Linked DNA regions of Homo sapiens. The protein of the gene in region 2 interacts with the protein of the main gene of each other region in a pairwise test. Each region holds a gene or a part of one and is shown on either strand. Other genes may lie near its edges. The genes, in order: KNSTRN, NUPR1 and PER1.

Evidence for each region.
Region 1: the proteins of NUPR1 (region 2) and KNSTRN interact in a two-hybrid assay, tested with the Homo sapiens proteins (2 studies listed by BioGRID and IntAct).
Region 3: the proteins of NUPR1 (region 2) and PER1 interact in binary tests that used the Homo sapiens proteins (3 or more experiments, as listed by UniProt).

The regions. Positions count from the first base shown.
Region 1 is NC_000015.10:40,385,699-40,389,445, forward strand, and holds part of KNSTRN (small kinetochore-associated protein), read left to right. Parts: intron 1-663; coding exon 664-796; intron 797-1,460; coding exon 1,461-1,508; intron 1,509-3,747. UniProt on the Homo sapiens protein: Essential component of the mitotic spindle required for faithful chromosome segregation and progression into anaphase.
Region 2 is NC_000016.10:28,532,295-28,536,041, reverse strand, and holds the end of NUPR1 (nuclear protein 1), read left to right. Parts: 3' UTR 1-3,334; downstream 3,335-3,747. UniProt on the Homo sapiens protein: Transcription regulator that converts stress signals into a program of gene expression that empowers cells with resistance to the stress induced by a change in their microenvironment.
Region 3 is NC_000017.11:8,150,459-8,154,205, forward strand, and holds the start of PER1 (period circadian protein homolog 1), read right to left. Parts: upstream 1,947-3,747; 5' UTR 1,879-1,946; intron 388-1,878; 5' UTR 249-387; coding exon 1-248. UniProt on the Homo sapiens protein: Transcriptional repressor which forms a core component of the circadian clock.

The DNA.
Region 1 (3,747 bases), on a different chromosome or scaffold from region 2:
TGCAGAGTGCTTGGAGGAGCTTAATGAGATGGTACAAGGATTCAGGCATGTTTTACCTGCTAACTTCCACCCTGCTCTCTGCTGGTGTCCATCTCCATGTTCACTTTTACAGCCTACACCTTTCAGTTCAATGAAACTTTTGGCTACCCTCAAACATGCTGTACTGTCACGTTTAAATAATTTTGGTTTTTATTGCCAATTAGCCTGGAAGTTTTATTCTTTTGAATTAATCTTCACATGTTGAAATTTGCCAGAATGAAAATAAAGATTTGGCCAGGCATCGTGGCTCACGCCAGAGTGGCCAAGGCAGGAGGATTGCTTGAGCCCAGGAGTTCGAGACCAGGCTGGGCAACATAGTGAGACCCTGTCTCTATTTTTAAAATTTTAAAACATATTTGAGGTGCCTATAGTCCAGCTACTCGGGAGGCTGAGGCAGGAGAATCGTTTGAACCCAAGAGGTGGAGGTTGCAGTGAGCCAAGATCACACCACTGTACTCCAGCCTGGGCCACAGAGCAAGACTCTGTCTCAAAAAAATAAATAATACTTTTTAAAATAAAGTAAAATAAAGATTTATGACAACTTCGAATGGGGCTCTGTTTGTTACAGGGTTGCAACTGTCGGGTCATGATGCCAGAAGCTTTACCTCTCATTTTCCTTTGCAGACACACAAACTCGGGCCACTTCTAAGAGTCTCTTACCTGTTAGGTCCAAAGAAGTCGATGTTTCCAAACAGCTTCATTCAGGAGGTCCAGAGAATGATGTTACAAAAATCACCAAACTGAGACGAGAGAATGGGTGAGAACGGATCATTAGTATCCAGTTAGAACATCTTCCTAGAAATTGCTCAATACAAAGAATTAGAAAACAGAGTTTTGGACAACACAAGTCTCCTGAACAACTGGCCTTCAATCAGTGGCCCAGAGCAGTGCAGCATTGCTGAGCTCTGTGCCAGAACCCTCTGTGTTGATCTTTCTGAAGAGACACAGCCAGAGTTATAAGAGGTGTTCTTTCCTCTTTCATCGCTTGCTCTGAGCATACAAGTGGCAGCACTGTAGTCATACAGCAACCCTGAGGGGTAGTCATGCAGGGTGGGGACTAGTTGTTATCCTAGGTTGCTGCTCTGACCACACAGTCCAGCCCTAGTGTGTGTGTATGTCCCCAGCCAGCAGTCAGTTCCAGGTGAGTGAGGTTGACATGAGATAGCCACGCCATCTTGAGAGGAACAGCTCTGTCAGGTTGTTAGGGTGGTCGGAGGCATGCCCCTTTGCTACTAAAAAGCCTTTTCAATAATCTGTGCCGAAGCAGTAATGCATAGTCTCTCAGAGCTCTTAAGCTTGTGCCATTTGCCTTTTATGTCTGGTTCTTTCCTCAGAAACTCAAGCTCTTTGTTCTGCCTGTTCACAGCACACTTAACAGTACTGTAAGTCTCTGATTCATTTCTTTGTTTCTGCCCTCCTAGGCAAATGAAAGCTACTGACACTGCCACCAGAAGGAATGTCAGAAAAGGGTGAGCATCAGGGTAAATCAACTTGGCCACTATTCTAGGGTAGTGGATCTCAATCCTTGGTTCTGCATCAGAATCATTTGTGGGACTTGTTTACTGTGTTAGGGTCTGGGTTCCACCTCAGGAACCTGAGTGGAATTTTCAGGGGTGAGGCACAGCTAGGTGTAAGAACCATTGTCAGTGCAAGAATCACTGGTGCTACTATCTTGTGTCTCAAGCAAGAGCTTTTTGGACTCCACGCCAGGACCACTGCTGATTGGAAATCACACTTAGCTATGGCCCATCAACAGGAGGGTAAAGCCTTCAGGAGAGGAAGGGCTGGGTGTATGTAGTTAGTGATCTCGAGATGAAGATTCTGGTGGTGGTGGTGGTGAAAACCTGGAGAAGGATTCATGTCTCATCTTTGAGGCTAGTTTGGAAGTTTTGCACTATCAGAAATAGAAATAATAAGCTGAAAAGTCTGTACAAATAGGTTTTAGTTCCAGATCTATTATTTGGGCATATCTTAAAAGTTTTGAAGACAGCAGGGCACACCAGCTCACACCTGTAATCGCAACACTTTGGGAGGCCAAGGTGGGTGGATCACCTGAGGTCAGGAGTTCGAGTCTAGCCTGGGAAACATGATGGGACCCCATCTCTACTAAAAATACAAAAATTAGCCAGGCATGGTGGCGCATGTCTGTAATCCCAGCTACTCAGGAGGCTGAGGCAGGAGGATCACTTCATCCCGGGAGGCAGAGATTGCAGTGAGCCAAGATCACGTCATTGCATTCCAGCCTGGGTGACAGAGCAAGACTCTGACTTACAAAAATAAAAAAGTTTTGAAGACAAAATACTAGCAAAAAAGACTGAGAACTTTAAGAAAAAACTCTAATATTGGTTGCTGAGACCAGCTTGGTCGGGGAGACCCTAACCCAGCGGCGCTAGAGGAATTAAAGACACACACACAGAAATATAGAGGTGTGAAGTGGGAAATCAGGGGTCTCACAGCCTTCAGAGCTGAGAGCCCCGAACAGAGATTTGCCCACGTATTTATTAACAGCAAACCAGTCATTAGCATTGTTTCTATAGATAGTAAATTAACTAAAAGTATCCCTTATGGGAAATGGATGGGCTGAATTAAAGGAATAGGTTGGGCTAGTTAACTGCAGCAGGAACACGCTCTTAAGACACAGATTGCTCATGCTATTGTTTGTGGCTTAAGAATGCCTTTAAGGGCCGGCGCAGTGGCTCACGCCTGTAATCCCAGGATTTTGGGAGGCCGAGGCGGGTGGATCTCAAGGTCAGGAGACCATCCTGGTTAACTATGGTGTTTCACCGTCTCTACTAAAAATACAAAAAATTAGCCAGGCATGGTGGCGGGTGCCTGTAGTCCCAGCTACTCGGGAGGCTGGGGCAGGAGAATGGTGTGAACCCAGGAGGTGGAGCTTGCAGTGAGCCGAGACCACGCCACTGCACTCCAGCCTGGGCGACGGAGCGAGACTCCATCTCAAAAAAAAAAAAAAATGCCTTTAAGTGGTTTTCCGCCCTTGGCAGGCCAGGTGTTCCTAGCCCTCATTCCCGTAAACCCACAACCTTCCAGCATGGGCATTAGGGCCTTTATGAACATGTTACAGTGCTGCAGAGATTTTGTTTATGGCCAGTTTTGGGGCCAGTTTATGGCCAGATTTGGGGGGCCTGCTCCCAACAATTGGTGATATTAGAGTTTATTAGATGATAAACTAACATTAGATAATAGCCCAGCTACTGGGCTAAGAAATGCACACGTGTTTTCTCTCTTATTACTCATAATAATAATACTATGAGATGTGGGTATTGTCCTGATTTCAAAAATGAGGAAACAAGGCCTCAGGGAGGTTATGCAACTCACTGAAGGTCATATACCACTGTGTAATAGCCAGGATAGAATGGGACGTGTTTGTGTAACTCTGTAGGCCGTATTTTTCTTTCTTTTTTTTTTAGACGGAGTTTTGCTCTTGTTGCCACCCAGGCTGGAGTGCAATGGCGCAATCTCAGCTCACCACAACCTCCGCCTCCTGGGTTCAAGCGATTATCCTGCCTCAGCCTCCCAAATACCTGGGATTACAGGCATGCGCCACCACGCCTGACTAATCTTTTGTAATTTTAGTAGAGACAGGGTTTCTCTTATCTTGGTCAGGCTGGTCTTGATTTCCCGACCTCAGGTGATCTGCCTGCCTCAGCCTCCCAAAGTGCTGGGATTACAGGCATGAGCTACCGCACC
Region 2 (3,747 bases):
CATCATGTTGGCCAGGCTGGTCTCAAACTCCTGGCCTCAAATGATCTGCCCACCTCAGCCTTCCAGCCTTTGGGAGGCCAAGGAGGGAGGATCGCTTGAGGCCAGGAGTTCGAGACCAGCCTAGGCAACATACCAAGGCCCTGTCTCTACAAAAATTTAAAAATTAGCAAAGCATGGTGGCTCATGCCTGTAGTCCTAGTTGCTCAGAGGCTGAAGTTGGAGGATCCCTTGAACCCAGTTGGAGGCTACAGTAAGCCATGATGGTGCCACTGCACTGCAGCCTGAGCAATAGAGTGAAACCATGTATTGAAAAAGAAAGAAAGAAAGAAAGAGAAAAAGAAGGAAGGAAGGAAAAGAAAGGAAGGAAGAAAGAAAAGAAAGAGAGAAAGGAGAGAAAAAGAAGAAAGAGAGAGAAAGAGAAGAAAGAAAGAAAGAAAGAAAGAAAGAAAGAAAGAAAGAAAGAAAGAAAGGAAGGAAGGAAAGAAAGAAAGAAAGAAGGAAAGAAAGAAAGAAAGAAAGAAAGAAAGAAAGAAAGAAAAGAGCGAGCCCCGGCACAGTGGCTCACACCTGTAATCCCAGCACTTTGGGAGGCCAAGGCAGGCGGATCACCTGAGGTCAGTAGTTCGAGTTCGAGGCAGAAGTTGTGGTGAGCCAAGATCACGCCATTGCACTCCAGCCTGGGCAACAAGAGCAAAACTCCATCTCAAAAAAAGAAAAAGAGAGAGAAAGAAAGAGAGAAGGAGGGAAAGAAAGAGGAAGGAAAGGAGGGAGGGAAGGAGGGAAGGAGGAAAGGAGGGAAGGAAATATTAAGGGATTTGCCCTAGCTCACTCAGGGCTCATATTCAGGGATCTTATTGTCTTCAGATATGAGGTGGGTCCCCAGGCCAAGGGGGCTGTGGGACAGGGTTCTGGGAAGTGAGATGGGGGAGGGAGATTCTTATTCAGTGCTATGTCTCAGGACCAGAGTTGAAGAAAAATATGGGGCAAACAGGAAGTGTGGTTGGAGCTGAGATTATTTGTTGATTGAGATACAGGTTTGGGTTGCTATTATGAAGAATCAAAACAGGATACAAAGTTACTCCTCTCTTACTTAGCCCCAAGTCCTCCTGGGTTCAAATGGCAGCTCCATTGTGTTGAGGATTCCAGCTATTTTTACTCACTGTTCTGCCACACCCAAAACATGGCTTCCACTTTGAGGCCCAAAATAGCTACTCCAATACCTGCCATCACGTTTGCATCTCAGCCTGTGGAAAGAGTGTGGAAGAGACAGAGGAGGCCACACCTCTTCAATTTTAGGGCATAATCTAAAAGTAGAACACATCACATCTGCTCCGAATGTGGCTACATGGCCACACCCAACTACGAGAGAGGTTGGGAAATGTAGCATTGAGCTGCTTAGCCACGTGGTAGCCAAAACTTGGGCAACAGCAGGGTTTTATGATGAAAGGGAACCAGAGAGAGTGAATACACGAAGAAGCTAGCAAGAAACATTGCCCACATGCAGACTCAACAGATGTCGGGGGAGAAAACTCTGAGATTGGGCCCCGGGCAGAGCCTGTTTCCTTTTCCCCTGTCCCTTTCACATAAGCCCCACACTGCAGAACTTGGAGTCAGTGGTTCATGGGGACCCAAGGACATCCACAGAAGACCGAAGTACCTGATAGAGCAGGAACAGATGCACGTCAGACTACGACCAGCTTGAACCCTTGGGGACCTGTATCCATCCCCTTCCCTTGAGTCCAGCCTAATCACAGCCACAGAATGAATCCATGACCCGGAAGGACATTTAAGGACCTCTGGCCCAACTCTCCCCACGCAACAGTGGGATTGCCTCTGCTTGTTTGAATACCACTATGGAGGGGGAACTTGCTACATTTAAAGGTTGCTGAATTTTTTTGTTTTGTTTTGGGAGATGGAGTCTCTCTCTGTCGCCCAGGCTGGAGTGCAGTGGTGTGATCTCGACCCACTGCAACCTCCGCTTCCTGGGTTCAAGCGATTTTCATGCCTCAGCCTCCCTAGTAGCTGGGACTACAGGTGTGGGCCACCACACCTGGCTAATTTTTGTATTTTTAGTAGAGACGGGGTTTCACCATGTTGCCCAGGCTGGTCTCAAACTCCCGACCTCAGGTGATCTGCCTGCCTTGGCCTCCCAAAGTGTTGGGATTACAGGCTTGAGCCACACCACCCGGCAAAGGTTGCCTAATTCTATCTCAGGGCAAGTCTGTTCATGTGGGCTGAAATCTGTCTCTCATACCTGCCCTTAAATAAGCTTCTGTTTTTCTGGTCCTTTCTGTCTGAGATGACTTTAATTCCTCCCCCGACCCCATCTCATGAGGCTCAGCTTAGATGTTTCCTTCTCTTCCTCCCTGATGGCTGCGTGCAGAAGCTCATACCTGCAATCCCAGCACTTTGGGAGGCCGAGGTGGGAGGATTGCTTGGGCCCAGGAGTTCTAGGCCAGCCTAGCAACACAGCAAGACCCTCTCTCTACAAAAAATTAAAAATTAGCCAGGTGTGGTGGCTTGTGCCTGTGGGCCCACCTACTCAGGAGGCTGAGGTGAGAGGATCTCTTGAGTCTGGGAGGTGGAGGCTGCAGTGAGCCATGATCTCACTCCAGCCTGGGCGTCAGAGTGAGACCTGTCTCAAAAAAACAAAAACCAAAGTTTTCCTTAACTTGCAATCCTCCACCCATCTCCTGACCTCCACCCCAGGCCGACCCTCCTCTGGGATCACACGGAAGCCTGGGCCCAGAATCTTACAGTCTACCTTGGAAATCCTTCAGATTTTGCCTCCAACTCCTCTTTCCATACAAGTTACATATTAACTCAATCAATGCTTATTGGATGCCTTCTGAGTTACCAGGATGCTGCTGGAGGCCTGTGCTGCTGAGAGGGACAAATAGAATCCTGATATGACTGGAACCAGGAATAGGGCCACCATCAGCTCTAGAACCCAGGGAGCAAATGGCAGGAGCAACACCAGGCAGTCGGCCCTCAGCCCAGCACAGACCTGGTGTGTTGGCTTCAGAAAATCCTGGAAACATCTCTGCTGTGTTTGGAGCTCCTATTCTGTGAGAAGTGTTTTATAGGCTTTGCTCCATTTAATCCTTACGATAACCCAATAGGACATACTATTAATGATCCCCTTTTTTTCAGACCGGAAAACTGAGGTTCGGAGACATTAAGTAATTTGCCTAAAGTCACACAGCCACATCCTGTAGGACTTGGAATTATGAACTCAGGTCTATCTGAATTTTAAAGCCTGGATTTTTCCCCCTTTGCTACATGCCTGGGAAGAACCATGTATTGACAATGAAGAATCCTAAACTCTCGTTAATTTCTGGTCAATTACTCCTCTGGGCCTGGGTTTCCTCACCTGTCAAATGGTGAGACTGGCCTCTCTTCTGTCAAAAGAGAAAATGAAGGCTGGGAAGCACTGTGTCCCTAGCTGGAATGGCCACTCCCTGTCCTGGGTCCTTTGACACCAGCCAGGAGTCCTCACACACTGCCCCTCCCTCCTGGCCTCTGATTGGCCTTTCCTGGCCTCGCCCTCGCCTGGCACAGCCTCTGCCTGAGAGGCCTTTAAGTGGCTGTTCTGGGAATTAAGGCAATTCTTGGAATTGCAGAATTTTTGGATCCGAAAGGATCCTACCCAGACTCTTCCTCTTCTGTCTCCATCCCCTTTCCTAAACCCTTTCTTTTTCTTCTGGTTGCATGTCTGTTTCCCCATTTTGGGGGGATCCCCCTGAG
Region 3 (3,747 bases), on a different chromosome or scaffold from region 2:
AGGGCTGAGTCCTTGCCGTTGCCTGAGGAGGAGCTGTGTGAGCTCCGCTGAGATGCGCCTCTAGACTCATGCCCGTTGGACTCATTGCCACTTGAACCATTGCTGTTGGCATCGGTGTCATCGGCCAGGCTGGGGCCTGGGCAAGGCCGGTGCTGTGGGGGCCCAGGGGATGGGACGCCCCCAGGACAAAATGATTCCCCAGGCCTGGGGTCCCCTCCCCCATCAGCCCCTTCTAGGGGGCCACTCATGTCTGGGCCATGGGGAGAACAGAACAGAGAAGGCAGAGAGGCCACCACGGATGCACGAGGGGGCCTGGAGGCTTGGCTGAGGGAGTGAGGTGGAAGATCTAAGTCTCTGAGGGTTGAGAAGTTCGATCACAGCCAGTACCTGGAGAGGGAGACCAGGAAGCAGGGCTTGCAGAAAGCTGGTTTAACTCCAGAGCACCTGCTGGCTTCACTCAGACCTTCCCCCTGCCTGGCCTCCTGCAGGACTGATGGGAGTGGAACCCAGGCCTGGGGCTTCCAATGGGGAGTCAGGATGTCTCCTGTACCCTTAGGGGGACTGCCAGCGGGAGAAGGTTCTCCGGGGCCTTCCTTCACATCCCCTGCCACCATGGCCTGAGCAGTCAATGAGAACCACGGCTGTAGACAAAAACCTGGACACTTCCCATTCCCAAGTTCCCATTAGGTGTCCACTCTGCCTGGGCCTCCAAGGCCTCGGAGCAGGAGGTGAGCTGGTCGCCTCCTATATTTAGGCCTCCAGGCTAATTTTATCCGGGGGCGGTGCCACCCCCGCTGCACATGCGCGCCGACGTGCGCGGCCCCACCACGCGCTTCCGCCGCCGCCACGGTCGCCAGGGAAACCGACGTCAGCTGCTGAGCTCAGCGGTTGCTGGAGGGACCACAGGAGGGCGGGAGGAGCGACCCCTCCCCCATTTCCCGGCGGAAGTGGGGGAACGGCCCACTCTCACACTGGTGGGCGCGGCCGGGGGGGTCACGCATCCCTTACATATCCCCAGTCCCAGGATGGCTCGGTGGCCGTAAGAAGTGGGACGGCCTATTAGGATCCCAGGGTTGGTCCTGGCTTCCCCAGGACGAAGCACAACGGCCACTGCCCTCGGCGCAAAAGCCCCTCAACCTGACTCTCGCCTGGATCCCAGTCATTCTGGTCAAGACAACACAACCTTTCCTTCTTTAGCCCCTGCGCTGCTTCCCCACCACAAGGACCGAAGCCGGCAACCTGCCATCGTCAAGGACCCGAGGATCCTCTCTCTTCAGTCCCCTACTTTTCTGGCCAGACCCCCCCACCAACCCCAAGCCTTGGGCAGAAGACACACAACAGCCAACAGATCTTTCTTCCCCTACTCCCCGTCCAACCACACCCCTACTACTGAGCATTTTCTGAGCGCCAGGGGAAAAGGGAAGGTTGTGGCCAACAGCAGGAACCAGCGCTGGGAACGGGATGTTCTAGTCCGAAGTGGGCTGACATCACAGGCGGCGCAGGGCCAGGGACTGGAGAACAGAGACACGGGGAGCGCTGAAAGCCTAATAGGGTCCTGGTACCGGGGCAAACCTGGGGCCCCTCGAGTAACGAGCAAGAAGACCGGGGCATGCCCGCTGAGAGTCGGCTGTGGGGCCGGGAAAGCTGGGACGGGGAGGTGGGGACAAGCTGGAGGTAAGATGAGTGGGTCAGGAGTGCAGACTCCCGGTGCAAGATTTCGAGGAGGACTTCGGTCCTTGGGGGCAGGGAGAGGGTGGGTAGCGGTAAGGACGACAGTGTGCCCTCTGCCTGGGCCGAAAGTAGCCCATCAGATTGGAAGTGGCAGCGGTCCGGCTCAGGGACGGAGATCGGCCCCAGGATGGCCGCAGAGATGCCTACCTGGTCGCAGGAGTGTCCTCCGCACGCCTGCCCGCCGCCGCTCCAGCCCGCAGCCGAGTGGAAGCTCCACCGGGCGGGCGGGGAGGCGGGTTGCATAATGCCGGGCACTGCCCCCTCATTGGCCTCTTGCCGACGGAGCCGCAGGCCCCGCCCCCGATTGGCTGGGGATCTCTTCCCGGCGCCTGATTGGCTAGTGGTCTCCACTAAGGTCAGGGCTGTGTCACACACACGGGCGCACGTGGACCTGGGTGCTGGTGCTGGGCTGAAGAGCCCCAGACACCGCCCAGCCAATGGGCGCAGGACGCTTGCACATTGAATAATGGAAGGGAGGAGAGAGGGAGATACGCTGCGCCTCTTTAGGGAAAAAGCCCGGCCCGGGGTAGGTGCTCAAGACTTGTCTACTTCCTGAACGCACTAGCCTTGCAGAACACAACATCTTGGCATCTTCGCCTTTCCAAGGGTGAGGAAAAGGAATGGCGCTGCAAGTTAGGCCACGCTGGATGAGATGGGTGGTCCTTGAGAGGAGGGGAGAGACAGAAACCTGCCTGGGCCTCTCCTGGGTTCCTTTCCCAACCTTGTTCCCTCCCAACCTTCGTTCTACATAATGAAGCCCTTTAACCGAAGCACTTCCTCTGACACTTCAAATCCTGGGAGAGGACAGTTAAGGGTCCACGTGTGACCGGTGGGTGAGTGGGTGGAGGAAGGATGCGGACAATGGAAGGGGCAACCAGAGCCAATAGTGGCTGTGAAGGGAAACAATGGCAGGTGCTTCTATGGCCACTCAGAGACAAGGTCTCCGGGCAGCCTACGTGGTGTCTAGTACTTTCCTCCAGAGGACGCAGCCACCCACAGTTAAAGCTGCCCCAAAAGTGGGGGCCAGGAAGCCAGGACTACAGAGGGACCAAGGGGATGGCCCAGAGAAGAGGCCAGCTGGGGCCCTAGACAGAGAAATGTGGGGTGGCAAGGGCTTCATATTTCCACTGCTTGGAAAAGAGAAAGCCAAACTCCAGGGGCCCAGACGGAACGTCATCTGTCTCATTCACTGTAGTCTCCAGAGCCCAGGACAGGACCTGACACATGGCAAGTGATCGATAAACATGATTTTTTTTTTTTTAAACAAGGATAGGTTGGGGAGGTGGGAAAAGAGTGTCAACAGGAGAAAGGGGGCTGGGAATTCTGATTCTCTAAAAGAGATGAGTAGTCCTAGAAAGAGAACAGGGGCACGATTTGCAGGCAATAAAATGTTAGTCTGGGCTCAGGAGAGCTGCAGTTACACAGCCCCCTCCATCCAGGACCGTGATGAGTAGTTCCTCGCAGGGCTCCCTGGAAACGTGGGTAGTAGATGAACAGGCCTCCAAGCAGCTGCTGACATAATCATTGTGGGGGCACTCCCCTCACTGTCACGTGGCCTAAGCTTTCCTGAACAATGAGGGAAGGGTGAAGGGGAGGGCTCTGTGGAAAAGCTGAGACAAGATCGTGTTATAAATTAACCCAGAAAAATCGAAACAGGAAAACAAAAGATTCAGGAGCCTGGAGGCCGGGCGCGGTGGCCTGTAATCCCAGCACTTTGGGAGGCCCAGGCAGGCGGATCACCTGAGGTAGCGAGTTCGAGACCAGCCTGACCAACATGGAGAAACCCCGTCTCTATTAAAAAAAAAAAAAAAGATTCAGGAGCTTGGATTCTCAGTCTCCTCTCCCTGAAAATGATCCTCTCCACCCCAACTCATACTGTGGCTTTGGCCTTATCTCGTTTGCAGATACCTCTTCCCTGGAAACATGGTTTTTCTCCCCCTTCAGGGATTTAGGTGTGATCTCCCCTAACCCAGGCAGTCCTTGATCTCCCGCCTCCATCTCCCTGTCTTTTGCATA